Regions from separate parts of the Homo sapiens genome. Here region 2 is linked to region 1. The links come from fine-mapping of genetic effects on plasma protein levels. A gene starts in region 1. The other region holds a variant in brackets. All regions are shown on one strand. Distances are from middle to middle.

Region 1 (2,913 bases):
ATTCCTAACCCACTGAACCTTCCTTAGAGTGTCTATTACTGTATTTCTTCACTTGAATGTCTCAGCCAAAGTTCAGACACAAGAGCAAACATCAAATAGAGAGCAGGCACAATAGTATTAGGCTCTTGCAGGAGATTGACTGTAATATTTCTTTTTCTAACAAAACTGGGAGCCCAATCATTTATTATCCAACTCCTTAATTAGTGAAGTAAATTACAACAATAACAACAATAGGTGACTACCAACACATTCCACTTACAGCAGTTTAGAAACAAAAGACTTAAATAAAACCTCTGCCCCCAAGGAGCCCGTGCCGGGCCAAAACGGACTAACAGACATAATGTCATTTCATTTATAACCCACATCAAATTCAAAAAGAAATGGTTTTGGGGGATTGGGGGGTGGGGGGCGCAAAAAAAGATGAAAGCATTTTTAACTTACCATCAACCCGAACATATAAAAATCCACAGAGCAGTAGTTGTGTAAACATCAGCAGACTCATTTTGACATATTAAAAAGGATCCAGATTCTTTAAGAAACCAATCCCAGAGAGCAAAAGTACAAAAATGAGTATCAAAAAAAGAGGTAGGTCCAAAGTTTAGACTTTCCTAGATACTAATTAAAGTCAAGAAGAGCAAATCGCAAGATCAGAAGGGGTTGGTGGAGAGGTCTCGAACGGGGCACACTGAGATCCATCCAAATTAACAGAGGGTACTTCAAAGGCTGCTGTATTTCCAGCACTCTGGCTTCCTAAATTCCCACAAATTCAGCCCAGCCAGAGGGATTATTCGAGTGTGTCTAACCCTCTCTCCTTAGGCTCCACTGCAATCCAAAGCCAAGTTCTTCCTTCAGAAGTCAAGATGATGAAGGGGGAGGAAAAGACCTAATTCCTAGAAAGTGTTCCACAAACTTGCCAGCGCGCTGCCGAAAAACCATTGGCCTGCCTACTGGTTTTCTTTCCCCCGGTTTCCTTCTCCGTAGCAGCTCCACGTCCGGAGTTATTTTTTAATATGTCTATATTTTTACTTAACTTCCATAATAAGAATGTGTCAAAGCAACACTTTGCAGGCGGGCAGACTTGGCGGGCCTCTCCTTTGCAGCGGTGTTGCCCTCCCTCCACCTCTCCGGTTTCCAAAAGAGAGGAGAAGGGAAATCAGGACGATTCGGGTGGAGAATCCGAACTCCTACGTGGTGAGGGAGGCAGGGAAGGAGCGAGGGAGGGAGGGAGGGAGGGAGGGGCCGGGCGGAGGCCGAGGCTGCAGACACCCCCGCGGTGCCGCCTCTGAGGATAGTGCACCAGGCGGCTGCGGGCGCGAGCAGAGACGGGCGTGAGAGCCCAGCCCGGGCGCGGCGGAGAAAGGGAGCGCTCAGTCCAGCGCCAGGCGCGCTGAGGCCCCTCGCCCGGGTCCAGCCCCCGCAGCCTCGCAGCAGAGCGTCCGCTTCCTCCGGCAGCTGCCGCGGGTGGAAGGACTTCTAGGAGGGAAGGCGAGGAGGCGGGAGGGGAGGGGAGGAATGAGAGCTGCCTGGAGTCGGCCCGGGGAGGGGCGGGGGCGAGGAGGGGCGCGCGGAGCCCTGAACCTCCGGACTCGGCCACCCGCCCGCTGGGGAGTGGGGAGGGGTCCTGGAGAGCCGAGAGTCCCCGGGGGGACGGAGATGAACAAATTCGGAGAGCCCCGCCGGCTGCCGAGGGCCGAGGCCACCGGGCGACTCCTTCCCCTTCTCCGCGCCCCCGGGTGCCCACTCCTTCCCGCCTCGGGAGGGGATAGGTGGGCTCCAGGCTCCTGCTCCTCGCCGCGTCCCGTTTAATGGGCAGGTAATTTTCTCCGTGAGTGATTTCATGGAAGCCCTTCCTAATTATTCATCCCTCCGTCTGCCGGAGCTGCACGCGCTTTCTTGAAAAAGATCAGCCTCCAGGACCCAGGGCGCAGCCTCATTACGCGTTAAAATCACACACTCACTCACTCTTCACCTTTTAGCCAGATGAGAAGCCGAGTAGGAGGAAGGAAAGGAAAGGAAAGGAAATAGAAGCACCTTTTGGACTGGAAAGGTTGTGTGTAGATGCTTCCTATATGATTCAAAAGCACAAGGGGGAGAAAAAGGAGGGGGCAGAATTCTCTAACCTCCAGCGGCTCATTTTAGCCAAGATCTATGGCCCCCTGCGGCATCCCCAAGGGAAGGAGGAAGGGGAGGCAGCCCCTCTTATGTTACTCAGTTGCCTTTTGACCCCTCCACGATGAGTTTGATGCGCGATCGCGCAGGGCGAGGGAGTTCCACAGAAGATGCTAAGGACGGGGAAGCGGGGATCACAGAGCTTGGGGGAGGGGGATCCCCGAAGTCTTTACCCTCCAGGGACCAGCACCTCCAGAAGGAAATTCGGTAAACATAGGCTCTGGGTGTGGAAAGCCGAAAGCCCAGCTGAGCTCATGGAAGCTCAAAAAGAAGCCGAATTTCAGCCCAAAGACGACAAAACTCTGAAAATTAAGACCAAGACTACCAAAGGATGCCATTCAGGACCGGGGATGATGAAGGAAGGTCACGTTAGATCAAAGGGGTGCCGGTGTCGGCGGTGCCCCGGTGCGGCCGGGCCCACGTGTGATCACAGGCTCGCTGGTAGCCGTTTGATGCTTGTTCAGATGATGAGAAGGCGGCTTATAGGAACTCACGCAGGTCCCCGAGCCGAGCTAAATGCTGGATGGTGAGTCTTTAGTTCCCCCTACTGGAAAATATTAGGAAAGGTTCTCTCCAGAAGGGGCCGTCTGAGGAAGAGCCTTTGTTTGGTGGATACGTTTTGGTGCTGCTACTTAACTTAGGTCTCCCTTGCATATTATGGGCGCTGTGTGTTCTTTTAAAAAAAGGTCAGCGACATTCAAGCAATTAGAAGAGACATTAGGACACCTCGGCATGCTTGAAAAT
Region 2 (2,913 bases), 580 kb before region 1:
AGTGAAATATGCAAAAATATGCAGAATTTTACCCTGAAGGAGATTATGCTGGAAATTCAGGCAAAGGGGCTTAACATAATAGTGCACTAATAAGTCAGCTCTCTGCATTTGAAGATTTTAACTTGTGCTCTGTCACCTTCGGTTGGATCTGGATTTCAAATCACAGCGGTGTATCTGCAGCTCTTAAATCTTAATTAGGCTGGCAAGCAGACCAGCCCCTGGATAAGAAGAAAAACTGAAAAATGGGCTCATGCATCACACATTGAGTAATTCAGGGAGGAATACAGAGGAAAATCATAGGCGCTGATGCTGCTTTATCCTGTCATAAACCAGTTCCCATCAGTGTTTGTAGAACTCTAACACATTGTGTAAAATCTGTGAAAGTTTGGAAGCTGTTGGCATAAAAATGAATTAAGCGGGATTGTGGTAAAATATCTCCTAGGATGAAAGATGTCATCACGGTAAATACAGATATGAGTGGTCTTCTGAGAAGACCCAGTGAAATGCAGAGACCAGACTTCAGTTTGTAGTAGCTCGGTCTACACAGTCATGTAAGAGGCATTTTCTTGTGTGTCCAACAGTGTATATCTATTTGAATAGAAAGACTGAATTTTTAGTTTTCTCCAAATTCATTGTGTCCATTTTAGGATTTAAAGTTTTCTTTAAAAAAATTGGTACATTTAAATCCCTGAAAATAGGTTATACCTTAGTCCTGGGATCATCATAGAAGAGTACCAATGCAACTCTTTCGTTTGATGAACAAGGCAAGAGGAAGCCAAAGAAATAAACAGAAAAAATAACTGCATTTCTTGGAAGAGAAGCATTTACTAGATGCAGCAATGTGAAATGCATAAACATATGGTTTATCTCACTACACATTTTCTTCATTCTAAAAATAATACCTTGTGCAACCTTAAAGTGGCTTATTCAGGAGACGTGCTTACTTTCCATCAGTGAATGATTTTACAGAGTGAAATATCAAGAAGCATTTTAAGATTGCATTCACTTCATATGTTATTCCTGATATATATAAAAAAGATCATTTCTAAAAGTCAAGGTTTTTAATGTAATAGACTTGGTTTCCTAGTAGAGTGAACTTCTCATGAAAGCCCTAGATATAATTGAGTTTTCTTTCATGTCTTTAAAGCTTTTTAAAATTCATGAATTTTCTTATCATTTTTGCAGCAAAGCAAAAGTATTTCCAAATCCTTTTTGAATTTT[G/T]TATTTAATATTAACACATTTAAAATGTTACAGAAATAGATGGAGTGGAATAAATCTTACAATAAGGAAGTAGTTGACTTTTGATGCATTTTAATGTTACCAATAGGTCAGTTTTTCCTATTAAATTGGTTCCGTTACCTGTCACAGAGCTGTCTAGATTGTCCATGCTGGATCCAGGAGTCTGGTCCAGTGCTCTCAGGGGCCTGGGGATTTCTAAAGCTTCCTCTTCGTCGTCGGCATCATCATCTGCAACATCCGTTTCCAAATCAGAAATCAAGGCTCCAGACACATAACCTAACGGTGGAACTGGAGGCTGTGGAGGTTGATTATTGCTTTGAATGTGCCTAGAATTCAAATGAAATTTAAAAAAGAAAAGCAACTTATTAACATGCAACAAAATCATAATTTTAATTAAATGCATGCTATAGTAACTCATACTGTCTTCTTCCTTTCCATTAACTAATTTAGGAGTTCATAATGCTTTCAGCAGAAACAATGGCTACGAATACGAGCCTCACCAAACAAGGAAAACATAAACCATTAAACTCTTCACTTGGTATTTATAGGATAACACACGGAGAAAAAAAAATACGGGCCCAGTATTTTTGTGAAAAGAAGTTATCTAGAGGGGACTAGGAATATTCGCCACGAGTAACTATTTAAAGTGAATATTTTTCTCCAAAAATATTATACTTTTGTTCTCAGTTTAGTGTCAAAATTCTACTCAGTCTGTGTAACCCATGCTGCCTGCTGGCCCTTATGAAGAAAAGATGTCACATGAGGACCTAATATCCCCTACCTCCCAACCCTGAACACATTTCCCACCCTAGAAGGCTTCCTCCCCACACGATCTCTCTCACATCAAGGCTGGAAGGCTATTTCCACTTTCACTATAACCCAGTTTAGGGTAGGCACAACTAATTTGTGCTCTAGTAGCTATTTATGTATCTGTCTCACCCAACAAAGTCTTAAACTCCTCAAAGGCATAAACAATTCATCTAAGGATTCTCTGTGTTTGGAACACTAGTGTGTTAAATAAACCTTTTGCAATGAATAAATAATTCTAATCTCAACCTTATGAAATAAATAGATCATGCATTATCAACCCTCATTTATTTATTTATTTATTTATTTAATTTTTTGGAGAGAAGGGGTCTTGTTCTGCCACCCAGGATGGAGTGCAGTGATGCGATCATGGCTCACTACAGCCCTGACTTCCCAGGCGTAAGCGATCCTCCTGCCTTGGTCTCCCAAGTAGCTGGCATTACAGGTGTGCTTCACCATGCCCAATTAGTTTTTAAATGTTTTGTAGAGTGGGATTCTCACTATGTTGTCTAGGTTGGTCTGAAACTCCTGGGCTTAAGCAAGCGTCCTGCCTCAGCAACCCAAAGTGCTGGGATTACAGGCATGAGCTATCATGCTTGGCCCAACCTTCTTTAGAATTTATTAAAGTGAAGGTCAAATTTAAGTGACTTGTTTCAAATCAGGTAGCTAACAAAGTGTGAAGCTGGGCAGTAGGGTCCAGTTGATTTGCTTTGAGTCTACTCAGATTTTCTTCTAAACCATAAAATGCTAAATGAAATGAATTTATTGTTATTTGTTACCAGCATTAAAAAGTGAGTGTACTACATGTTTTAACATAGTAAGTATTTTCTTTGCCTTCATATAAAAGGTATTTAAAAGGCTGTGCTA

Alleles and levels. Positions count from the first base shown, and alleles are read on the strand shown. Strength reflects both the effect of a copy and how common the allele is.
For the plasma level of the protein whose gene starts at base 1,189 in region 1, T is the low allele of the variant in region 2 and G is the other (moderate association).

What was found. PIP is the chance, under the fine-mapping model, that this variant and not a neighbour inherited with it causes the effect. The UK Biobank Pharma Proteomics Project read protein levels with antibody pairs (Olink). The fine-mapping took linkage between variants from a reference panel, not from the people measured, so its PIPs are less certain.
Region 2: its variant is fine-mapped to the plasma level of the ROBO2 protein (UK Biobank, PIP 0.97).

What each region holds. Positions count from the first base shown.
Region 1 is chr3:77,038,375-77,041,287 of GRCh38, reverse strand. ROBO2 (roundabout guidance receptor 2) reads right to left here and starts at 1,189. Exons shown (of 28, transcript NM_001395656.1): 1 at 442-1,189. The coding sequence starts at 502.
Region 2 is chr3:77,620,879-77,623,791 of GRCh38, reverse strand. ROBO2 (roundabout guidance receptor 2) reads right to left here. Exons shown (of 28, transcript NM_001395656.1): 24 at 1,360-1,565. Among named protein-coding and RNA genes, the nearest start is that of LINC02077, 430 kb to the left of the region's middle. The variant G/T (reference allele first, on the strand shown) is at 1,222.